5 separate regions of the Homo sapiens genome follow, and regions 1, 2, 4 and 5 are each linked to region 3. Evidence: fine-mapped expression QTL. A gene starts in region 3. Each other region holds a variant in brackets. All regions are shown on one strand. Distances are from middle to middle. Region 1 overlaps EPHB1 (EPH receptor B1). Region 2 overlaps EPHB1 (EPH receptor B1). Region 3 holds the start of EPHB1 (EPH receptor B1). Region 4 overlaps EPHB1 (EPH receptor B1). Region 5 holds the start of LOC105374121 (a long non-coding RNA gene).

Region 1 (5,000 bases), 240 kb after region 3:
TACCTTTAATTAAGGAGTCTTTTATACTTAAAGTACATCCTAGGGAGCACATCCCTGGGTAATTAGAGGAGGAGGCTGAAATCTAGCGTGTTCTGTTTTGGGGCTTGGAATCCCACCAGGACCCTCCTGCTCATCAGCACAGTCCCTCTCATACTCATTTTCATGGGTCTGGCATCTGTTTCTGGGAAATGCTGGACAGCTGGAGACCTACTGTCCACTGGCCTTGAGGTACTACTCCAGCATCTCCTGCCACTGCACATATACTTGCATGATGCATTAGTCATATACCATTCCATAGCATATGAGCTTGTGGCAGGGTCAGGTGACTGGCCCATGTGGAGGGCTGTCTGTAACATGCCAGCACTGCTATACCACCAAAAAGACAAGTTTGGTCCATAGGGTAGTTGGCTCATGGGATTTGCCGAAGCATCTGGTCTAGCCAGGTCCCCAGGTTTGAAGAAAAGAGGGGCATAAGTGTATGGAAATCCTCTTTGGAGCTAACATTCATTTATCTATCTCTCCATTCATTTTTCCTTCCATCCACTCGTCTCTCCATCCATTCACTATTTCCACATACATCCACTTAGTACTCTCCAGTGGCTGCCAGGCTTTAGTCTAAATACTGAGGACAGAGAGGTAAGAAGCCGCTTCTGACCCCAGGAGCCTATGGTTGGGTGGGAAGACAGAGGAGGCCGTTGGCATAGGTAGCACAGCAAGGCCGTTGAGACGCTATCTCTGGAGGACTAGAGCCTCAGGCCCATATCATAACTACTCGGGGAGGGTGATGCCAGAGAGGACTGAGGCCAGTGCAACCAAGCAGCTGGGGGTTGCTTGAATTGGACAGGGAGAAAATCAATCAGGGAAGTGGTGGAATTGGCATATACCCATCCAAACCGGTCAGGATGGAGGAGGCAGGCCTGCATGGCCTGTGAGGTCAGCTGACCCCTCACTGTTTTCCCATTCTGTGTTGTCTTTGCCATGTGGGTGCTCTGCAGTGTATAGGCTACTGTGCCCTGAGACTGAGAGAGATGGGTACCTGCAGGCTTGCACAGTTCAAGTGTTGCTGTCTTCTACATTAACTTCACCCTTCAGACCTGTGGAGGGTCCTCCTAACTCAGCCACCATGAAAGTGTGACTGATGGGTGTCCTGGCCTTCATCTTCTTCTGAACCGTTGTATAAGCATGGGATAGGTTCCTTAACCTCTGTGATCAGTCAGGTCCTATGTCTATTTAGGATATTTCTAGAATATCTAGCAGCTAGGTCAGCTAGGTCCACAGGCAGCTAGGTCAGGAAACCCAAATATGGAAGCTGCATCTTGATCTGTGGACGGTAGCACTGGACTGATGTGACTGGGTTTCAGGGCTGCAGAGGTTTACAAAAGTGAGCAGTGGGGCTTGATGAGCAGTCCTGATGTGGCTATTAGGACAGCTTTCTGCTCTCCTGATTGATTGATTCGGGCAGCCAAGTGTCAGGCCAAGTGGGCAGGACCAGAGCAATGGGGTGGTAAATAGACTACCGAGAAGATAGATGGATTGTTGTTCTTTAATCAGGCATTCTCTCAAGACATGGGGAACATCTTGACCTGGGATATCGCCACCCTCATCCCAGGCCCAGTAATGAGAGAATTAGCACATGCTGAAGAGCTAGAGTAACTGCTCAGGCTTGGAAGCAAAATAGAGGGTTTTCTGTGCAGCAAATCACTTTGAAACTAAATCTCCTTACTCCAGATGCACTCTGAAAATGAAAAGTCTGTTCTTTGTTTCAAATCTCCAAGAGACAGGAAGAATACTGGGATCAGACTGTGGCCTCTGGGGAGGATTTGATAGAATGCTCCCTGGTCTTGGCCTTGAAAACTGGAGGAGGTTCAAATCCTCAGGGAGACGTCCCTTGAGGACAAATGCTTTGTACAGGAAAGCACTCGTTAGATATGTACTGGAGAAAATGACTGGTTTTGCATGAATTTGGCTTTTAAAGGTCACTAGCATTAGCTCCCAACATAAAACCGTTGGAAGGGATTTAGAAATCACATAGACCAAGTCCATTTGACAGAAGGGGAAACTGGGGTCCAGAGAGTTTAGGTGACTTGCCTATGACCAGGGACACCATTGATTTACCATCTATCTCCCCACCGCCCATCAGTGATGCTTTCTGTATAATGATAGAAAAGGAGTAAATGAACCAGCTAAAAGTTTGCACTGTATCTCAGATTCACTTTGGATAAAAGTCTTATTACTGAACAAGCCAAGAGGTACAAGATTGAAATGTGGATTTTACATTTCCTGGAGGTTTCATGATTTCTGCATTGAGTGGGTACAATTAATCTATGTTCTTTGAGTGGTGAATTTTATTAAACCAGGTTTTCTCTGCCTCCTCAGACACTGACTGGTTAAATGACTTATAAAATAAACTTGCAGGAATTCTGCAGTTAGTGTTAGAATTGGTGTGCCCCATATTAGGCTCTACCCTTTTCTTATCACAGTCATTGTTTACCTACCAGATCTCCCAACCTAAGAGCCGCAGGAACATGTGGGCTTATCACAGAGCTCGGGTGTGTCCCCTTCCTGCAAGTATGCTTCTCCCACTATCCTCACCAGAGTAAGGTGTGAGGGGCAAGTTAGCCATTTGTAGCTCCAGTGAACAGTCCAAGCTCCACTGGGGTAGCCTCCCTAAGTCCTGCTTATATAACATGTGTGAGTTTACTTTTCACCCGTGGTGGGGTAGGAATGACAGAAAATTCTTTGACACATATCCAAAGAAGAGATGGTGCCCATTTCTCCTCCCTTTGAATCTGGGCTGGGCTGTGATTATTTTGACTAATGGACTGTGGCAAAAGTAACACTTTACCCGTTCCGAGTCTTGCCTTTAACAGCATGTGCTGCTTCCTCTTTGGTCAGTTCGTGCCCTGAGTAAACATGTAAGTCCTGCTCCTCTGCAAGAGGGGAGTACATAGAG[A/T]ATCCCTGAAACTTCAGGGAGAGAGAGATAGGCCCAGTCTGGCAGCTGACCCTGTCAAGGTGCCAGGCTGCTGAGTTGGACCATTTTGGCTCCTTGAGGCCCCCTATGTCCGGAATTGGTGGGTTCTTGGTCTCACTGACTTCAAGAATGAAGCCGCGGACCCTCGCGGTGAGTGTTACAGCTCTTAAGGTGGCGCGTCTGGAGTCTGTCCCTTCTGATATTCAGATGTGTTCGGAGTTTCTTCCTTCTGGTGGGTTCGTGGTCTCGCTGGCTCAGGAGTGAAGCTGCAGACCTTCGCGGTGAGTGTTACAGCTCATAAAAGCAGCGTGGACCCAAAGAGTGAGCAGTAGCAAGATTTATTGCAAAGAGCGAAAGAACAAAGCTTCCACAGTGTGGAAGGGGACCCCAGCGGGTTGCCAATGCTGGCTCCAGCAGCCTGCTTTTATTCTCTTATCTGGCCCCACCCACATCCTGCTGATTGGTAGAGCCGAGTGGCCTGTTTTGTCACGGCGCTGATTGGTGCGTTTACAATCCCTGAGCTAGATACAAAGGTTCTCTATGTCCCCATCAGATTAGTTAGATACAGAGTTTCGACACACAGGTTCTCCAAGGCCCCACCAGAGCAGCTAGATACAGAGTGTCGATTGGTGCATTCACAAACCTTGAGCTAAACACAGGGTGCTGATTGGTGTGTTTACAAAGCTTGAGCTAGATACAGAGTGCCGATTGGTGTATTTACAATCCCTGAGCTAGACATAAAGGTTCTCCACGTCCTCACCAGAGCAGCTAGATAGAGAGTGTCGATTGGTGCACTCACAAACCTTGAGCTAAACACAGGGTGCTGATTGGTGTATTTACAATCCCTGAGCTAGATATAAAGACTCTCCACGTCCCCACCAGACTCAGGAGCCCAGCTGGCTTCACCTAGTGGATCCCGCACTGGGGCTGCAGGTGGAGCTGCCTGCCAGTCCTGCACCGTGCGCTCGCATTCCTCATCCCTTGGGTGGTCGATGGGACTGGGCGCCGTGGAGTAGGGGGTGGTGCTCCCGTCGGGGAGGCTCGGGCTGCACAGGAGCCCACGGAGTGGGTGGGAGGCTCAGGCATGGTGGGCTGCAGGTCCCGAGCCCTGCCCCGCGGGAAGGCAGCTAAGGCCCGGCGAGAAATCGAGCACAGCGCCAGTGGGCCGGCACTGCTGGTGGACTCAGTACACCCTCCGCAGCCACTGGCCCGGCTGCTAAGTCCCCCCTTGCTCGGGGCCAGCAGGGCTGGCTGGCTGCTTCGAGTGCGGGGCCCACCAAGCCCATGCCCACCCGGAACTCAAGCTGGCCCGCAAGCGCCGCACGCAGCCCCGGTTCCCGCTCGTGCCTCTCCCTGCAAGCTGAGGGAGTGGGCTCCAGCCTTGGCCAGCCCAGAAAGGGGCTCCCACAGTGCAGTGGGGGGGCTGAAGGGCTCCTCAAATGCCACCAAAGTGGGAGCCCAGGCAGGGGAGGTGCCGAGAGCAAGCGAGGGCTCTGAGGACTGCCAGCATGCTGTCACCTCTCACCCCCAGCCACCAACTGAATACATTGAGGGACTGTAGTCCCTGCCACATGGAGCAGGAGAATTCCTCTGCCAATTACCAACCTCTGTCTGAATTCCTGACCTGCAAAATCTTTGTAGATAACAAAAATTTGAGTTTGGAGTCAAGTTTCTTGGGTTTAAATCCACACTCTGCCACTTACTTGCTGTGTGTTCTCAGGCAAATGCTGTTCATCTCTGAAACTTGATTCCACCATCCATATCTGGGGTAATAATACTTTCCTTTCAGGAGATTCGAGATACATACACTATAATGTGGTATAAAGGGCCTGGCATGTAGTAAGTGTGCAATAAGCCCAAGCTGATCTTTGGAATTTTCTCAGCCACCCAGAATTCTATCAGGCAGGGGTGTCTTAGGAATAGCTCCCCACATGCAGTGTGACATCCTCAGAGCAGCCTGGCTTGTCCTCTTGGGGACCTGCAGCATTGGGAGGGATGGGCCATGCAGAGACACAGAGCCCTGGGGCTG
Region 2 (5,000 bases), 110 kb after region 3:
TTCCCTTCCACCCAGCCTGGACTGTGTACGCCTGGACCAGGTTTTATTCTAGGGATGGGAATGATGGGGCCTTGGTAAATGGAGGGACCAAAGGTAAGAATTCTATCAAAGGTAAGAATTAGGTAATAGATTAACCAGACAGAGTTGGAAGGAAAGATTTGTGAAGTTATTAAAAATTGCTTGGTGTTCTAAAGCTGGTTATTATTCCATTGTTGCTAATTCTGGGTCCCAGTGAATCCACAGGAGAGAAGTTTCACTGTGACCCCACCGCAGCCAGATGTGCCCACGAAGGAAAAAGCCTGAAGGCATTTCAGGCCCTAATTGGTTGTTTCTGTAATGTTTTTCATTGATTGTGCAGCGGCAGTGCAAGCAGCTGCCCAGGGAGCAGAGCAGGCAAGCACCGGGGGCCTTTTCAGGAGGGTGTGTCTACCTGTCATGAGGCTGTCTGCTGCTGGCCTAGGAGATCTCCAAGCCCTTTTGGATCCCCCAGCCCTGGAAAGGAGGCTGGCTCCAGGTGGGAGAAGAGGTAGCACTCTTGCCCAATTAGGAGCCTGTAGCTCCCAGGCTTTCCTCCTCTGAGTGAACATTTCTTTCTGAGGCTGGATTCTGCCCTCTGATTATCGCAACACATCGCCTGTTTGCTTTTTCTTGGTTTAACTCCCACACTAATTTTGTGCATGAATGAGTACAGTGAAACCAGTTTAATTTGCTGTTAATTCTCTGTTCAAAATATTCTCTTCTGTTTAAGGGACATAGTCGCTTTCATCTCTGAGGCAGCGTGTGAAAGCAGGCAGCTGCTAGGGTGGTGGAGGGGTGCCTGCGAGTGGGTGTCAGCCTGGGCCAGTGTGTCTGTGGTCTGTGGTCTGTGGTGGGGGGTGGCAGGTAAGCACCATGGGGGTGGACATTTCTCAGAAGCAACAACCCACAGTTTTTGGGGCTTTACACTTGCTGAGCCAGCGGATGGTTTGACTCTGCATGGGAAAAAGTTCATAGCTGGGAGAAATACCTCCTCACCAAGGGGCTATGGCTGAGAGATTTTGGCACACACACTGAGTAGCTAGTCTCTTGGAGATCACGAGTATGGGATGGGGAAGTGAATTCTACAGCTGATCACAGATAGTCAGGGAAGACATCTGACTGTCATTTAGGAAACACAAACTTTAAACATTCCTTCAAAGTGTCTAAATATAGTGTTTATACAATTTGTTCAAGCTTAGTTGGTGAAAGAGATCTGTTTTTGACAAAATGTTCTTGTTTGGGTCTGCTATGCCTAGCTCTTTTACTTCTCTGCTTTAACCAGGGGCCTTTTAGGGGAGCGGGCTTTGCACCAGGTGGCAGAGTGCCCAGTCACAGGACTGCACTTGGAGAGACAAATGATCTCTACAGGAGCTGAAACTGTAAAACAAAAGTAATGGGGCATGATTCCACAGCACTGGTCACCATGAGTCAGCCCCTGAGACCATGTGGGAGTGGTTGTGGCTGTGGGTGAGGGTCCTGCTTCACTCCCCAATAGCTGCATCAGTACCCACCTCCAGTGCAGTGTTTCTTTAGAATACTCTTGTAAGTTGCAGGTAGAGAAGATTGGATGGACACTGGGGATCAGCCTTCCTCCACTTTCCTCTTTGGAGCTATCCAAAGTGCTGGCTGAGGGGGCCCCAGGAGCCTCTCTCTGAAGCCGACATATTTTCTCTGTGAGTTTCCACATGCTGCTGGCCTACCAAACTGATTGTGGAGTGTGCGCACTGCAGCCACTCCCCGCCACACCTTCCACACATTTCTCTTGTCACTTTCCGCATGTCAGGCATTTCTCTTGTCATTCCCGGCATTACTGACTGCCCAGCATTGCCAACCAGGGGGCAGGGCAAGCATTCTGCTTTGGGAAGCACATGTGGTTTATCCATCAGCCCAGCACATCTGTAGGGACCACCCGCTGGGAAAAGGTGCAATGGAGTGGAAGCCTAAGGAAAAGAGGAAGAGCAAAGGCAGCAGGTGGTGAGGTGGTTTTACAAGGGCCAGTCAGTGTGGCCTGTGGAGTACACCACACTTCTGGCCTCCTCTTTTCCTGTGCTGAGGTCTGGCCAAATCTGGACTGACTCTTGGCTTATGTTTCCTCTTGGTGCTGACCAGGAGCCTTGCTGTGGACATTTCCTCCCAACTGCCCTCTAAGCTGTGAAAGCCAG[A/G]CAGAGCCTTGCCGTTTCCCCATGATTCCCAGGCAGTCCTTGGACTGTTTCGATTGAGCATCTTGCTGTTGGCTTCCCTTCTGAAGCCCCCTTTGCCCATCTGCTAGCTTCACTCCTCTGCCACCTGATTTTGCAGTATTGAATTTTCTCTTGGCTGATCTCCTTTCTCATACCTCTGATTGGTGGTTTCCATAAGATCAGAGGAGACTCTTCCGAGAGCCCAGGGCCCATGGCCCTTCTGAGCGCTCCCATGGTGATGCGATCCCATTGATGTGCCAAGTCTACAGAAACCCAGCTGACAAACACACTAATTATACACGTTCCTCTGCAAATTCATTAATGGCAAATGAGGCCTGTGTTCCCCATGTTTATTCTGTTTCCCTTTATACCCCTTTGGAAGGACTCAAATTCCTTTTTGAATTTTGTTGAAACCATTTAGCCCGAGGGGATAGCATCATAGATCAGAATTAGGCCAGTCATCTTCTGTAGGTACACTCTATTTAGATGACTTAGTAATATAAATTTTATTTAATTTTATTTTTGTTCATTGAGTATCCTCTGGGTTCCAGCTGGTGATTTTCTGGTATTCTAGAGGTCACACAAACTTTTGTGGACGTTTATAGGTATGCTGATAGCTGTAAGAGTTTTTTCTTTTAATTGTACAATAAAATAATGAATGAAGTGATCAAACGTGAAAAGACAAGTTTTAAATATCACTGATCAAATTCTTCTAGCATGTTTGTCCAGGCCACAACCCTTCACTATCTAGTGGTGGGAAAATTATATATCATGGGCCAAATCCAGCCTATAGTTTGCTTACATGAGGTAATGGCAATGGCAGAATTGAGTAGTTGCAACAGAGATCTTATGGCTCCCAAAGCCTAACATATGAAGTTTGCCAGCCGCCAGAGCAGACCATCATAACACTTATCAGAGCAGCCAGTGTGGTCAGTGGTAAACCAAGGCCCTCTTGGAGAATGTGCTCCTGGGTTGGGCTGGAGGACTTTACCTAGACCTGTGCTGCTTTGCAGCCCAGAGGCTATCACCCCAGAGGTCTAGGGAGTTGAGCCACCATTCAACTGATGGTGTTGTGTTCAGTTTGTGTAATGAGATCTCAAACAGTAGGGCCAATGCTTGTCTCTTAATGGTCTTCTAAGATAAGATAATGCCTGTGAAAATAGTTTATAAACTCTAATGGCTAGACAAGTGCTATTTATAAAAGGCATATATCTGAATCCAACTGTTTAGAAATAATAATAATTAGCATTGATAAGTGATTATTATGGGCCAGGTGCAGTGTTAAACACTTCACAAAAAGTACCTCATTCGATCTTCAAATTAACGTGGGAAACAGGTATATTGCATCCATGCTACTGATAAGAAATCTGGGGCTCAGAGAGGTTGTGTGGGTTACCCAGTGCCACATTGCCATTATCAACACAGCTTAGATTGGAACCTTTATCTTTTGACTTCAACTCCAGTGCTCTCTTAGTTGCACCATGGCTGGCTAGGTAAGAGTCCACTAAATAAAGTAGATATGTGTTTTCTTCTGCTGGTAGACAAAGCTTTGCATCATTTTTCTAAAGGAAGGGCAGATGGGCCCAAAGTGCTTGGTGAAACATAAAGAAAACACAGCTCAGTTGTCTCTGGCCATTACCAGATTTAACACTGAGATTTGAATGCTGTAGAGTGAAGTTCCGTGTCATTTTGCTGAGATGCAAATTTGACCCACAGGCACTAAGGTACCAGCCAAGAGGGATGCAAGTGCTTTGCTGATTGCCAGTTATCATCATTGCATTACATACATTAGATTAACTGCCTCCCGTGAAGTGGAAGAAAAGTGACTGACCCCCCTGCCCGCCCCCTCCCCACCAAGAAAGCCAGCCAGCACTGGTGATGGAAATCTTAAAGAAAAAGAGAATAGACATCTTATAAGAAAGAGTAGAACTTGGCTGTATTACTCAATTTAAAAATTCAGTAAAGTCTTGGGCCATGCCCACAGTAGATGTCATTGACTGATTGCATTTCGGAAGTGAGGGATAATTGTCTATGTCAGTGTTTGCCCCACATGTTCTCCCCTCTCCAGCCTGCTAGAATGTGGCCTCCCCTCTCCGGGCCTCCAACATGCTCCTGCTCTTAAATCCAGAGTCCTCCTGGTGCAGGGTTAGAGACTAGAAATTTCCAAGCTTCCTCCTTTGAGGTGCTGCACACCACAGCTGGTAGCCAGGCTAGGGTCTCATTTCCATCTTCTTCCCTCACTGATTCAGTCACTCATGGGCTTGTGCTTTGTGTCCAGCCCTTGCCTGGGAATAGTTCCTGCCCTTACAAAGCCCACACTGCAGTGCAGTAAGCTGTGTATCTTATCTTCCTTTTTGCAAACCCTCTTCTCTCAGACCCCAAACACATGGTGTGGGGCCTTCTGCGTATGCATCTAGAGGCTTCAGTGTGTCGGCATGGAGGTGCTAACATTCCCAACAAACATGAGGGCTGGGGCCATGCCAAGCCTCTGTGACTCTGCAGCTCAGTGAATTCTGAGTGATAGAGGGGCTGGCCCTCTCCATAGGCTGTCTTGGGCCCAGGGCCCAGACCTCCAGCCATGCTTCCAGAGGCCCTGTGCCCCCATATTATCCTACCCAGGCAGCCTGCAGGGAAGGGGATTTGTTCCCTATGCCTGTCACTCTGCGCTGTGTGGAGGGCAATAGGGCTTTTGTGAGTTCCCAAGTGAACCCACTGGCCCATTGTCTGGCCCAACTCTCCACAGAGCTCCACCAGCGTGGTGAGGACAGGGGCAGGGCTGGGAAAGGCCTGATATATTCCTGG
Region 3 (5,000 bases):
AGGGATCAGTATTTTTAGAGGGCCTAGTTGGTGATGTTGCTGTATTTATCCTGGCACAAGTTCAAAGTCCCTAGCTGGGTTCTACTTGAAATCCCTGTACTTGGTGGGCTCCAAGCGCACTCCCAGGTGTGACATTCTGCAGTTAGTTGGATAATGGTCATTTATACCTTCAGCCATGTCTGACAGAGCCATTCAGTACCCACAGAAATATAACATGAGGGTATCAGGAAGAGGGACAGAAGAAAAGGCTTCCTGGGAGAGGTGGGATTTGGGTAGGAATAGAGGTCAGGAAATTCAATTCAACTCATTTTAGTTGTGCAAGTAAACATCCAGTACAGTGTTTGTGGCGGAAGGTGCTCAGTAAACAGAAGGTCTTCCCAGCATGTCTAACTAGCCGCTGTCACTCTCTTGCTGCTTCCTGCTTTGTGATTCTTCAGAGCTCTCCTCAGCACCTGACATGCCACTGCCTATTTGCTTATTATTGCCGCCCTTCCAGGACATGGTAAGACCCCTCAGAGAAGGGCTGTCTACTGTGTTCCCACAGCTAGAACAGGGCCTGCCTGAATACGTGGGTGAGCACATGACTGGCCTGGGTGTGGTTGTGGAGATGGCAAGAGGATACCCTAGGCCCAGAGAAAGACCAGCAGGGCCTGGGCTGAGAAGGCAGGTTTCAGAGAGCTTACAAAGCAGTCTGAATGTCATGCTAGAGTGGTCAGTCTCTCTTCAGCAGACAGTGAGGAGCCACTAGGTTGCTATGCAGGGAAGAGACAAGATCAAGGTTGGCTTGAGAAGGATGAGTTTGGCAGCAGAGTTTGGAGGGATTAAGGGGAGGGAGGGAAGCTGGACTGTCATTCAGAGACTCTCCAGTTGTCCAGGGGAAGGTAGTATGGGTTTACACTGGGTCAGATGCACAGGCATAGGACAAGGGCATAAGGAGGAGGACATGGCAGAGCCGGGGCTTTGCCAGACATGCCTACCAAGTGACTGTGATATAGTGAAAGGGGGAGGGAAGAGTGTGAAACTCACCCATCCATCCATCCACCTGTCCATCCATGAGGGGATGGCTGGGGGTAAAAAAGCAAGTGAAGCTGCCAAGGAGTTGCCCATGTACCCCAGGAGGACGAACTCCAAGGATGGAGTTTGGGGGATACCTCTCTTGAAAGCTGAAGAGGTAACAGAGGGAACAGTAAGAAGTGGCAAGACGGGTAGGAGGAGAAGCAGGACCATGGAAACTGGGGCCAGAGCCCCAAAAGATCTACTGGACACCAATGTCAGCAGGTGCTGACGGTGCAGGAGGATGACAGCTAACTAGGAGCAGGTTGTTGCCCAGGGTGACATCAGGTGGCTCCAGGGACATCACGACACAGCTGGTGGTGTGGAGGCGTAGAGGGCAGCTAACATGGCATTAAGGTGGATGATGAGAAGGTGGAGGTTGATGACATCTTCCCTTCAGGCACAGAGGTGGGGTAGGAGGGAGGGGAGGGGAGGAGGAAGGCAGCCTGAGTCAGAGCCAGGGAAGGAAAGAATTGTCAGGATTGGGGGACTTGAGTCTGGCTGTGGTGGAGAGGAAGAAGTCCCAGCAAAGGAGAGACTAGACACGCAGAGGTGGGGGGTGTGGGGAACTGATTTAGAAAAGCCCAGAAAGGAGAGTCATCCCAAAGGGAAATATCGCATCTGCCCACTGTTAGCTCATTAACAGACCAGGGGAAAGGATTGGTGCCTCCAAGGTGAGAGGCGTAGGAGGAGGGGTGGGGAACCTAACGGGTCATCCCTGACCCTGTAGGACCAGACTATCATCAGGTATGTAGGGGGGGCGGGAGAGGAGGGAAGGACACATCTCCAGCATAACATATAACAGCCTCAAGGTGAGTTTCTGATTTAGAACCCTTGACCATCTCCAGAAACAGGAAGATAAAGTGTAGCTGTGAGAGCTGAGCCTGGGAGAATTGCTCCTATCTCCAAGGCTGCATCCCCAGTTGCTGCCTAAGTCCTTCCCACCCACACTGAAGGCCTGGCCCACAGCAACAGTGCACCTCGCCTTGCACCGGCCTGGGAGAGCCCTCTTGCAGGCTTTGCTGTTTTATAGCTGACTGTGTGACTCCTGGTCTCCCCACGCTGAGCTGTCCTCTGGGGTCAGGGCCCTCTGTGGAAGTTCACAATGCACTGGGAAGTGAACACCAAAGGCAACCAGAGGCTTCTGCAGAAAAAGAACTGCGAAACGTTGGACAGGAAGCAAATCCGGTTCCCTGTGGACCCTGGAGCAAGTGCCCACAGGTTATCTGAACAGTATTCATTCTTTCGACGGACATGTACTATGCCTCCCGCAGGCCAGGCACTGTTCTGTGAACTGTGGATTCTGTAGTGAACAAAATAGACAAGAATCCGAAAATGGTGACCCCATTTTAATGAGGGAGAGACCCCACGATAAACAAAATCGATTAGTAAATACCAACCCATGCTAGAGAGTGAAGAGCTCTGGAGGAGAGGCACGGGTGCGCCCCTGGAGTTGCTCTAAACAGGGTAGGCAGGGTGCTCTTGTCACAGAGAAGATGAACGAAGGCTCGTTTGATCATTTAAAGCGGATCCAGTCCTGGGTGGGATGTAAGGGCACGAGGCCTCCCCAGCTCCTTCGCTGGGCACCCTATGGGGGGACAGGGTGAGTTGGGCGGGCCGCTGCGGTTCTCCGAGAGCACCACGAGGGGGAGCCCGGACCCCTCCTAGCGCCTTCCGAGCCCTCCCGCACAGCCTTGCAAGCAAAAGTTTTTCTTAAACTAACAATGCCAGTGTAAGGAGGTGCTCGCGCCTGATTGGCCGGGGGAATTTTGCAGGTTTGATTCCTTGATTGGACAGGAGGTGTTAGGGGTGGGGAGAGAGCTGATGGTGGGGGATCCCGCTCCCTCCCGCGTCAGTCTGGCCGGCTCCGTCCTCCCGTAGGCTCCGCTGTAGCTAGCAATGTGACACCAGGACGCACTCGCTCTCGCGCGCTCTCCCAGGCTCGTTCTCCCTCGCCCTCTCTCTCTCACACACGCACGCACACACCCACCTCTCCCATAAACACACACACACACATGCACACCCACACCCACGCGCGCCCGCACCGCCCCACGCGCACACACTCCTGCCCACGCCCACGCAGCGCTCCGGGAAGTCCGGTCCGGGCGAGAGCGCGAAAGGATACCGAGAAGCCACCCGCGGAGAGCGCAGCGGCGCCCTGGGACGCGGCGCTCTCCCGGCGCTGCTGCCTCGGCTTGGTCTCGGCCTGCGGGCCGTCGGCCGGCGATGGCCCTGGATTATCTACTACTGCTCCTCCTGGCATCCGCAGTGGCTGCGATGGAAGGTAACGTACCCTCCACGGAGCAAGTTGGCTGCTGGTGCCGGCCGCCTTGGGACTGCTGTGCTCCGCGGTTCGCGGGGTTCCTCTGGCTGCTTTGCGGTGCAGGCATCCCGGGACCCGAGGGCAAGGAGGTTTGGGAGCCTCGGCCGCTGCCGAGCGCGGGGCTTGGGCGGCACCCACCAGAGCGCCCCCGGCTGGCTCTTAGCGCCCGAAACTGGCTCGCGAGTCCCCCGGCTTCCTCGCCCCGGCACTCCCTGGTAGCCTCGGTCTCCCGCAGCCCCCGCTCGGAGAGCTCGGAGCCCGCTGCATTGCGGTGCATGCTCCTTAGCTCTGGGGCAGAGCCAGAGCTGGGCGTTGGGGAGAAAGGGGTGCCTCTGGCCATCCGGCTCCTGGAGTACTGGCGCCCGTCTGCTCCCAGGCACGGATACGCTTCTGAGCAGCCGCGCGCCACCTCCTTTTCTCCAGCTCGCAGTCCACGGGCTAGTGGACTCTGCTTGGCGTGCAAGCACTGCGCGCGGGGGCCGGAGAAGCTCTGCCGTGGTATCCCGCAAGTGGCCGCCGAAGGAGAGGGGTGGAGTTCATTGGCCGTACCCTTGGGGACCAGTCTGGTGGTCCGGGCGCCTGCGGGACTGCAGGTTTCCAGGGTCAGTCGGGGAGAGGTGGAAACCCTTTTCGCCTCTTGAGCCTTGGAACAGGAGTGGGCTGGGGTGAGTGGTCGGTCCTACCTAAAGTCTCCCAGCCTCTCCACCACCCCGGAGAGGATACTCGGCGGCCGGGAGTCGTCGGGCAGCGTCACTCTCTGCCAGCTCAGACTTGGCGGTGCCTCCGGCTTGGTGGCTGGGAAAGCGCGCTCCAAAGACACCGTGCCCGGCGCAGCGGGGAGCCTGGGCGCTCGGTAGCGCTCGCGAATCCCTGTGGGAAATCCCGGCCCAGCTCCCCGCCTCCCGCCCCTTCCCCCGCCTCTGTTCTTCGCAGCCTAGCAGCGGCCGCGGCAGCCTCCTGGGAACACAGCTCCGCGGGAGAGCGGAGTTGGAGTTGTCGGGAGAAAACCAACTCTAGGGGTGATGCGCTGCCGCAGTCCGGCTAGCAGCCCCACTTTCCGGTGTCCTGCTCCGGATGGAACTCCTCTGGGGGACTCCAAGCCGGGGAGGAGCAGCTCTTGGCGACCGCGCAGCGTTCCCATCTGGGAGCTCGCTCCGCTTGTTACTCGTTCCTCGCGAAACTGTGACCGGTTGCCCAGTGGAAACTCCCCCAAACACGATGGTTTGGTGCCCCCCGCCATTCCGGAAAGCTCTGCCCTTCTGGAAGTGAAGCTGGAGGGGCATTCCGGGCCCTGAGGCGCGGCTAAGATTCCCTTCCCTTTTGGCGAAGACCACCGCATCCCACGTTTGTTCTGGTGGCGGCGTGGGGGTGCGGCGATTAATGCCTAGAAAGCTCTCGCTTGCTTTTCCGAAGGTGGCTTTTTGTCTGCCCTCAGTCTCCTGCTTCCCTCAGGGACTGCTGGGCTTTGTAGGGAGGGGAGCAAGGAGGGGTTTGCTTTTTGGAACGTGCAGGAGAAGACTGGAGCCGTGTGGAGTGCCGTCAACACCCTGGCGCAGGGATGCCTGGGTTTGACTTATTGAGAGACACGTGTGGGAGCAGTTGAAATTGGAAATTCAAGGGGATA
Region 4 (5,000 bases), 280 kb after region 3:
ACCTAGTAAGAGTTCACAAAAGTATTTTTAACATATTTATAATGGAAAATTTCAAGCACATGCAAAAGTAGAGAGAGTTGTATAGCAAACTCACTTTTACCCATCATTCAGCTTCAACAATTGTCAAACCAAGACCAATCTGGCTTTAACTAATTCCTTATGTTGAAGCAAATTCAAGACATCCTATCATTTTATCAGTAAATATTTCAGAGCATATCTCTAAGAGATAAGAATTCTTCAGAGTAAATAACCGTAATACCATTATCACATCTAAGCAAATTTATAATAATCTCTGAATATCATCAAATATGCAGAGAGTGTTCAAAATTTCCTGAATGTCTCTGTCTTTCTCTCTTTTTTTTTAAGTTTATTTGAATCAGGCTAAGAAGTTCCTTAAACTGCAGTGGGTTTATTATCTCTTTTTAGTCTCTTTTAATCTATAGTTTTCCCCCTTTCTTTTTTTTTCTTGAAATCTGTTTGTTTAAGAAACCATGTTGTTTGTCCTATGGAGCGTTCCATAGTCTGAGTTTGCTCGTTGCATTCCAGTGGTGGTGTTTAGCGTGTTCCTCTGTCCTCTGCAATTTCTGTAAATGGGAAGTAAAAAAGTTTGATAAGATTCAGGCTTATTTATTTGGAAAGAATACTTCAACTTCATATTCATCCATGGAGGCACATCTTGTCTGATTTTTCTCTCTGTGATGTTGATGTTAGGGATGTTGATTCTCATTGTCCAGATCCAGTCTTTCATTAGGGTTTGCAAAATGTTACTATTCCAATTCTATCATTCTTTCTGCATATATTAACTGAAATATTTTATAAGAAGAAAATTGCCCTTATTTAGTTATGGTTTGTATAAGAAAGGCATATAAATGCTTGATTCTCTGTCTTGATCAGTTTTCAAAATAATGAGTTGTTCTCTACATTCTCCAATTGATCAGTGGAGTGTTTAAATATCATCATGAGCTCATAGATTTAAACATACTTGATGCATTTCAATCAATGGATATTTGTTGAATGAATGAGAAATTGAATAAATGCAAGTTTAGAATTGTCTCTAGGCTTTCAGGTTTTTTTTTCCTCCACTCCAGACTTTGTAGTCCCAGATTTTATAAGGAAAAATGTTGTATGATTTTGTTCTAGGGTTAATTCTACTGCTTGATATGTCCTTAGTACCCTAGGACTTTTACTGAATGAACAACATAAGCCTTGCTTTTATGGATACATTTATCCATCTGCTACTAAACACACCATTTTCAGTTAGATCTTAAATATGTTATCGAAACCTGCTGATGTGTTTCCCACCTGGGAAGGTGTTGGTCACTGATCCACAGGCAATTGCACTTACCTAGTCTTAGCCCCAGCTTCTATACTGTGGCTTTGGGCCATCCCCTCCCCTCTGGGCCTCAGTTTCCCCATATGAACATGTAGGGGTGGCACTATGTCATTATGAAGGCTGTTTCCAATCCTTACATTTTGGGGAGCTCTCCTTCTTCCATACTGCATGTGACCTCTAAGTAAAGGCCATGTAAGCAGCATCAGAGGGGGCAAGCAGAGTATCAGGGTGGTGGGGTGGAAATGAGGAGTGAGACCCACAGGCCAGGGTGAGAGCCTACCATGCACAATCCAACAAGCAGCTCAAAAGGACCCCTCGCTGTAATACACCTATCATTGCCTGTGTGGTTTTTCTTTAATAACTTTCTGGAGTTTGGTGGGAGCAGGAGGTGCCAACCAGGTTAGGAAAGATTTCTGGGATTCTCTGGTAGTATCCAAAGGAGGAAAGACTAGGTGCTGGATACAAGAAGCAGTTTCAAAGTATGAGCCTTTAAGCAGGTTGATTGGATATCTGAACTATCCCCAACCAGCCCTGGGCTTCCTTTTCAGTCATCTCTACCACCTGTCAATGTTGCGCTTTCTGGAGGCTGAAACAACCTTGCCAGCTGCCCTGCCCATCTGAGAATTCAGACATCTAGAGTGCCAGAGTCTGCTGGCATCTCCCTTTTGTCAACTGCAGGGTTAGATTGCCTGGGAATCGATAGCCAGAATCCATGAGCCATCTGATG[A/T]GTAGACCTGCTGCTGAGCTGTTGTCTGCATATCACCCTCCAATTACAGGGCCCCCATTTCCCCGTCTGTTTCATCATGCAACCCAAGCACCCAGGTAGAAGGCCTTTTGACCTGTTGCTCCCATGGACCTGCTGAGGTATCTTAAGATGATGAAATGTCTCTTTCTTCTGCCTCCCACACTAGCTGCCAACAGCTAGGAGCTGATGGGCTTTGTGCTTCTTCAGGAATAAGGGCTTGGCTGATGATAGGGTGTGGTGGCTTATATGGCATCATCCACAGCTCTTCTCAGTCCCTAGGTGGTAGAAAGAAAGAAGCAGCTGGCAGGAGGCTACTATCCTGCCTCCACTCCATCAGACTCACAGTTCTTCTTAATCACTGCCATTGCTAATTCTTACTGAGTGTGGACAGTGGACAGGCCACTCTATGAAGGAGGAGAGATGCTCTTTACCTGCAAGGGGCTTGCCTGATGGAGAGTCCCAGAAAATGTCTTGGCACCTGTAGGTAACGTTAGCCCTTTCTCCTATTTGAGGCAGTTGGGGATGGATGAGTAGATGGTCAGTCACATCAGTGGTTGGAAACCATCCCAAGAGATGGCTTCCTGGTGTTTATTTGGAAGTGCTGAAACAATTGGATATCCATAAGCAGGAAAAACAAGATTACCTCACACCATATACAAATATTAACTCCAAATGGATCATAGACCTAAAAGGAAAAACAAAAACTATAAAATTTCTAGGAAAATGTTTTGACCTTAGGGCAAAGATTTCTTAGATATGACTCCAAAAGCACAATCCATAGGTGAAACATTGGTAAATTGGATTCGAGAAAAATATTTGTATATCATTTATCTGAAAAGGGATATATATATATATATATATATATATAACTCTTAAATGCATTAGTAAAAAGTCAAACAACTCAATTTAAAAATGAGCAAAAATATGCATGGGGATTTCAGCAAAGAAGATACACAAATGATTTTTATACACATGAAAATATGCCCAACATCATTAGTCAGTAAGGAAATGCAAATTAAAAACACAATGATATACTACTTTACACTCACTAGAATGGATATAATTTTAAATTCAAAAATGGAAGTCTTATACAATACTGCTGGGAATGTAAAATTGTACAGCTGCTTTGGAAAACAGTTTGGCAGTTTCTTAAGTTAATTATAAGTTTACCATATGACCCAGCAATTCCACTCCTCAGATTTTTACTCAAGAGAATGAAAACATATGTCCATGAAGTGACTTGCATGCAGATATTCACAGCAGCATTATTCATAATAGCCAAAAGGTGGAAACCATCCAAATGTTTATCAACTGGTGAATGGATAAACAAAATGTGGTATATCCATACAATGGAATATTGTTCATCAGTAAAAAGGAATGAAATACTGACACACATTACACTATGGATGAATGCCAAAACATTGTGCTAAGTTATTGAAGCCAGATTTTTGAAAATGTTGAATGAGTCCTAGAAATGTCCAGAAATGACAAATCCACAGAAACAGAAAGTAGATAAGTGGTTGCCTAGAATTAGGGGGTAGGAGCAGTTATGGGGCCTGAGGGACATTTACGGGGTGGTAGACATGCTCTAAAATTTAATTGTGGTGAGAACTCTACAAATTTACCAAGAATCATTGAACTCATAAATTTACTCAAATTCATTGAATAATTTACAATGAATTTTATGATATGTTAATTATACCTCCATAAAACTGCTTAAGATAAAAAAGAAAGAAAGAGAAGTAGATTCCAGAATGTATTTTGCCAAAGGAACCATGGACAGGGAGAGAAGGGGAGAGTGGGCTTTGGACCCCGTGGGACAAGTCTCAGCCTCCAGGGAAGGCTGCAGGCCACTGGTGTGAGGACCTGCCATTCCCTTCTGCAGGAGTGGCAGTCTTGGGCAGCATCAGCTTACAATATCCTGCTCCCAGGTTTGTTCTCTCTTTCTCACCCACATATCTGGGACCATTCCTGCTCTCTGAACCCCTCAGCCACCATGCCTTTGACTTGCAGTCACAGACTTGCCCCTCTCCCTGCTCTGATGTCAGCCGTCCCTCTCACCCACTCTGTTTTTCTGAAGCCTAGGTCCTCTGATGAGCATGCCCTGCTTTCTAGTGTACATCACTGGGCCATGGATGGCTGGGCTTAGAGTTGTTGGGAGATGGTCTCAAACCTAGGTAGGAGGAAGACGTGGTAGAAGCAGCTTACTGAACAGAGAAGGGTGGGGTAGCAGGAGCTGAAGGAACAACATGTGGGACATGGGTGGAGGGGAAACATAAAGACCCTGAGATGCATACATGGCACATCCTGGTGCTACAGGAGGGACTAGAGCCGACCCATGAAGGCCCATTCCAGGGCCACAACCCAATGACTGGAAGTAGGAAGCTCAGGAGCTGCAGAGGCATTTGTGGTTGACTTTGCTGGATTTTGAGAATCAAGACACACTTTGCTCCCCTCACATCTCCCATACCAGAAGGTTGATCTTTGCCATTGGTTTAGTTATTTACTTCCATGTATAAACAGCCCTAATTTTGGAGCCCTTATTATGTGGAAGACTCTATAGAAAGCATGTGATAGCATTGATTTGTTTAATCTTCACAAAATCTTTTGAAGTAGGTGCTATTATTACCACTCCATTTTGCAGATGATGGAACTGCAGCCCAGAGAGTAAAGTCAGTTATTCAAAGTTTGAGATTCAATCACAGTTATCTCAGTTCCTGCATTCCCCCAGGTTCCTGCTCAAGGGTAGATTTGATGGGGTAAGAGGCCAGGCTCTTAAAGGCCCAGTGTGAGAAGACTTCAGGCCTTCAGACAAGTGTATCCACTGTGCCTGGCAGGGGGAGGAGTATGGAAAGGAGTAAGAGAAGAAGCTGATATCTCCTCCCTCAGAAGAGAGGGATGGGTCTTCCCAAGGAGGTGTTC
Region 5 (5,000 bases), 58 kb after region 3:
CCCCAGAGAGAGAGGAGAGGTGGCCTTAGTTCTTCTCTGTACTGTGGGATGAGCTAGTCTGCTGGTGCTTCTCCACGCCTGACCTCTGGCTGGGTGAGAGCTTCTCTGAGAAAGAGGGATGTTTCCAACCTTGCCCCCTGGGAATTCTCTCCCGGCCTGAGGGAAATGGGGCTTCAAGGCCCACAGGGATGGGGACTTGACCTCACTGACTGTTCACCGTCGGGTGGGGCAGAGGATGGGGAAGTGTGGGGCAGGAAGAGGCCTGTGTCCCAGGCATGTGGTGAGAAGGGGCTATGGGTGAGTCTGGGGGCTAACTTAGGAGTCTTGGTGCGGGCAGTTCATGCCAGCCCCAGAAGGCTTTGGAAATGTGTGCCTGAGCAAGGAGGAGCGGCTGGCATTGCCTGCTCCCATGCTGGCTGTGATTCTTCATTCCCTGTCATTACCCGCTTCACTCTCCATACCCTGGGAGCTCTTGTGGCTACTCTGAGGGCACGAGGGAGGTGCAGACAGTGTCCCCAGGAGCAGGGTCAGCTGGAGCAGATCATTCTAACCTGTTGGTGCAGAGCCAGGGGGGCATTCATCTGCTTCCCCATGGGGGCAGCAGATGCAGCTGGAAGGGAAATTGCATCACAATGGAAGGATGGGCCTTGGCCAGGGCCTGGACCAGGAAAGGCCTTTTTCTCCTCTTCCTGGTTGGACCATTGCCTTCTTTCCTCCTGGACTGAAGATCTGAGTGTGTTTGAAGGGAAAGGTGCTGGTCCTGTGTCCCTCCAGTGTCTGGCTGGGTCCAGCGAAGGGAAAGAAAGGCTGGAGTTCTCAGGGCCAGCAGGCCTTGTCTGGAGGGAGGAATTCAGGCTGCAGAAAGGCAGAGCCCAGCAGGGCACACCTGCCTACTTTATGCTATGCAAGCTTCTCAGGGACAGGTTTCCAAAAGTGACTAGGTCTCTGGAGAAACTCATTTCCAGGCCTCCTTTGGGGTCTTACTGTCAAATCCTTGCAGCCTTTCCTCCCTGATCCCCAGTGCCCTTTGACCCGGATCCCCATCTCCCCTCTCCTCTTTGCACTTCCCCCTCTGCTTTGTCCCCCACTTCCCATTTGCTCCCCTGGGTTTTCCTCCCTTCCTCCATCCCTCCTTCCCCTGCAACTCCCCTTGCAGCTTCCCTTCTTTCTGTAGCCACCCGTATGCACTTTGGACTTTGTATGCATTGGTTTGCATGGGAGGAACACCTGGGCTGTCTTGGCCTCTGCAGTCTTGTTCCTTGGGCTACTGCCAGTCCCTCATGGGGGCAAAACCATGCTCACTTGCCTTGGGTGCCCTGACCTGTGGACACTGTGGCCATTTTCCGCTGCCTGACAAAGGAGAGTTTTTTCCTATCTTTGAGTTTTGTTCACATGTTGTCTTGTAAAAGAAGGTATAGCTATTAAATACTCTTTGTTACACATTTAATGAGTTATGTTGGCTGAAAACCATAAAATGGTGCAAAATCATGATAGCCTGGAAAAATATTGTAATCTTCTTACTGTGTTGTAGCTTTGTCCATGTTCAGAGCTCTGCTATTGTCTTTTCCCAGGCCCTGGAGGCCTGGTGTGCTTCCATGGGCCTTAGGATGAACCTGAGATCTTAATGCATCCTTCTTTGCTGAATGTCTGTTTTGAAACTCTGTCCAAGGGTGGATTTTCAGTAGAATCCCAGGGCTACAAGGGTTTAAGTTCAGATTATGTGCCCCATGTCCCTCCTGGCAGTCGGCTGTGCACTTTACCCACCTCGGGGCGTATTTCTACCTGTTTTAAGTGGTCACAACAGGAGAGTCCATGGCCATCTCGTTCCATCCACATGTCCCCACCCCTCACCACTGTCTGCCTCAATGTCCCCTCCTTTTGGTTGCCCCACCCCTCTGGCAGTCTGCCTTGACCCTAAATCTATAGCCACAGCATGCCCTGCCACTCCCACCCTGGCAAGCAGCTTTTCACAGATGGCTCTGTCAAATCTGGACGGGTTCCGAAGATGTTATTGGATTTCTGTAGCCCTCTTGTGCCAAGAACATATGGGGCTGCAGGAGAGAAGGGGCAGAGGGTCAGGCACTTATTCCTTCCTCTGCCCCATATCGCCTTTGAGCACCTCCTTCATGGTATTTTAGTAATTCCTTGGTGGTGAAGTGATGGGATTTTGAAGAGGATTTTTGTAGGTGCATCCAACTGCAACAGAATACATCAGCCTCATCGGAAGGAGAATGGAAGGCCTGAGAACGCACAAAAGGAGCATTTGGAGAGGGTAAAGTCACATTCCTCTGACACTTTGGGTGCAGGTGTCCGTATCTGTGCAGTAAATGTGGGGTGTGTGTGTGTGTGTGTGTGTCTGTGCATGTGTGTGTGAAAGAGAGAAAGATACATACATACTTATGCAACCTAATTATCGACTGGTATTGTGCAAAGAATGACTAGGCCTGTCTTCAGCACCAGGCCACTGTCATGGGATAAGGGACAGGGGACAAGAAAAAGCAGCAAAACAGTGAGGTATAAGTGGAGGAGTGCTGGACCAGGTTGGGGTATCTGAGCCCTAGGGCTGACTGTGCTGCCCACTGCTGTGAGAATGTGGGTGAGTTGCTTTCCTCTCTGAGCCTCACAGTCTCCTTCCATACTGTCAGAGGGCAGGTGGGGTCACTGCCAGCTCTGACTTTCTATGACTGTCACATCTGAAGAAGAGGAAGCAAGTGGAGCCCGAGTCGGGAGGGAGAGAAAGAAAGAGAACAGAAATAGACAAAGCTCAGAAGTGGAAGAGAAAGAAGTAGAATAGAAAATGAAAGCAGAAGTGAGAGAAGTGGAAAGAAAAGGGGAGACAAAGGGGAAGGCGAAAGCTTACCTGGGGGACTGTTGTCAGCAAAGGCAGAAGAGGGAAGCACTTGTGAGCTGGTGAGTGCTGCTGCCCCGGTGTGGCTCACAGGGCCTAGCCCTCCCTGGGTCACCCAGAGAAAGCCAGAGGAGGCTGTGGGTGCCCCTGGAGACTCCTCAGGGCATGTAGGGGGTGGTGTGAGCAGCCTCTCACAGTGGAGCTGGAAATGGAGAGAAGTGGCAGACA[T/A]GTTTTGGGGATAAAACACACAGATTTTAGTGATAGGTTGGCTGCAGGAAGAAGGAGAGAGAGAGTTACCAAAGATGGCATCCAGGTTTCTGACTTTTACAATTAGTGGATGGTGGTGTCACTTGTTGAAATGGGAAAGATTTGAAGATTACCACTTTGGGTTGACTTTGAAATGGCTGAGACTTGCAAGTGACTATTGAGAAGGAGATTGGATATATGGATCTGGAGCTCGGAGGAGAGGTCTGTGTCTGAGTTCAAGATGGAAGGTGGTAGCCACAGTTACACAGATGGTGAACCTGCCTGCAGAAGCACCGTAGCACAGCAATATTCTTGAGCCCTTCCTGTATGGATGGAGAAAAGAGAAGGCTTTGGGGAGGAAGAGAAGGCTTTGGTCTTCCCTGCCCAGGGCCAAAGCAGGGATGGAAAACAGAGACAGGGGTTCCATATAGGAGCAACTTCACATCTCCTGCAGTGCATTGTCCTCATCCAGGACAGAGAGCCCATCCATCATGGAGTCCTTCCTGGGAGCCCATACTCAAGCCTCCAAATCATCCTTCGCTGCAACCACCCAATACCAAAAGTGAACATTTTTGGTGTGTGAGCAGGCACACATGTTCTTCTCCTGCCCTGGAGATTCACCCAAGGCTCCAATGCCAAAATATGGTGTTGTCCTTGCTGCAAGCCCTGAGGTGATATTGGGCTGAGCTAGGTTGAAGCTCCAGGCATATGACGGGTCTGGTATTACTGGGAGTAATTGTGCGATAGGAGAGCACAGGGCCTGGCTCACAGTAGGTGCTGCATGAATATGTGTGGACTGAACAAATGTCTGCCGGAGTCAGTTTGACTGCAGCCTCTTGTGAGTGGAGGAATAGGATTCTGCTTGATGATTTAGGGGCTGAGCCAAGCCTGAAAGGAGCCGTTTGGGAGGAGGAGATGATCTGTGTCCTGGTCTTAATCCTCTAAACTCTCCCTCTGGATTAAGTCAGACCCACCATGAACCTGGCTGCAAGGTTTCCACTCTTCAAGGATTTGCTTTTATTGCACCGCATTTTGGTGAGATGCCATCAGCCCGCACTGAGGAGCTTTAGAACAGCCTGTGAAACTCGGTGGTGTTTACTGTGAGGGTGTCACTGACAGCATTCATTGCATCACAGAGTGTCCTCTCCATGGGGCCCCATGGGAAGCGTTTGCCTCATGCTTCCATAGCAGGGACAGCCAGGCTTCTCTGAGTAATCGCTTTGTATGTCCTGTGGACCCCGTGACCCGTGTAACTGATCAGGTTTTCCTCATCCATTGACTGCTATAAAATTGAGCTCCAAATGCATGGCTTGGCCATAGAAATTCAGTTGTTTTAGCCTCATCATGGGCTTCAATTTATGTCTTTACGCTTGGTTTGGCTTTCTCTTTCTCACCTATTTTTCTTTAGAGAATTTTTGTTGCCTTTTTTCATATTGTAAAACAAATATAGATTCTCTATAAAAAGTTAAGAAAATATAGAAAAGTATAAAGAAAAAAATGAAGTGAATTATAATCCCCTGCCCACTCCTTGGGACAATCTGTTAAATTTTTTGTTCAGCTTACCTGTCTCTCCTATACATGAGTGCACAACACACATATGTGGGCATATACATATATACACATGCGCACTCACAATAGTCAGAAATTTGACCTTATTATCCGTGGTGTTTAGCAACTCTTTAAAATTTTAGTAATACATATATATTTTACCTGTTTGCTTATATATCTTTCAGTATTTTACATAATCCTTGTAAGCTACCTTAAATCTTCTAAAATAGAATGGGTTATAAATATAAAATGTAAGATTTAAGACAGAGACTTCCAGGCAGGCTTTGAAACCCAGATGGAGGAAAAGGCTGCAGCAAAAACCTAGAGAAGAGTCTGGAGAAGCTCCCCAGAGGCCAGA

Evidence for each region.
Region 1: its variant is fine-mapped to the expression of EPHB1 in thyroid (GTEx, PIP 0.99).
Region 2: its variant is fine-mapped to the expression of EPHB1 in cerebellum (GTEx, PIP above 0.99).
Region 4: its variant is fine-mapped to the expression of EPHB1 in whole blood (INTERVAL, PIP above 0.99).
Region 5: its variant is fine-mapped to the expression of EPHB1 in whole blood (INTERVAL, PIP above 0.99).

Annotation. Positions count from the first base shown.
Region 1 is chr3:135,035,488-135,040,487 of GRCh38, forward strand. All of the region lies in intron 3 of EPHB1 (EPH receptor B1), which reads left to right. Among named protein-coding and RNA genes, the nearest start is that of EPHB1, 240 kb to the left of the region's middle. The variant A/T (reference allele first, on the strand shown) is at 2,954.
Region 2 is chr3:134,903,618-134,908,617 of GRCh38, forward strand. The region is part of intron 1 of EPHB1 (EPH receptor B1); the gene reads left to right. Among named protein-coding and RNA genes, the nearest start is that of EPHB1, 110 kb to the left of the region's middle. The variant A/G (reference allele first, on the strand shown) is at 2,181.
Region 3 is chr3:134,792,353-134,797,352 of GRCh38, forward strand. EPHB1 (EPH receptor B1) reads left to right here and starts at 2,908. Exons shown (of 16, transcript NM_004441.5): 1 at 2,908-3,337. The coding sequence starts at 3,280. RefSeq lists enhancers at 2,424-2,633, 2,695-2,989, 3,034-3,083, 3,094-3,283.
Region 4 is chr3:135,073,316-135,078,315 of GRCh38, forward strand. The region is part of intron 3 of EPHB1 (EPH receptor B1); the gene reads left to right. Among named protein-coding and RNA genes, the nearest start is that of EPHB1, 280 kb to the left of the region's middle. The variant A/T (reference allele first, on the strand shown) is at 2,061.
Region 5 is chr3:134,850,331-134,855,330 of GRCh38, forward strand. All of the region lies in intron 1 of EPHB1 (EPH receptor B1), which reads left to right. It overlaps LOC105374121 (a long non-coding RNA gene), which reads right to left and starts at 4,155. Exons shown (of 4, transcript XR_924525.4): 1 at 4,069-4,155; 2 at 3,146-3,417; 3 at 2,861-3,050; 4 at 2,082-2,240. RefSeq lists enhancers at 2,511-2,570, 2,681-2,890. The variant T/A (reference allele first, on the strand shown) is at 3,077.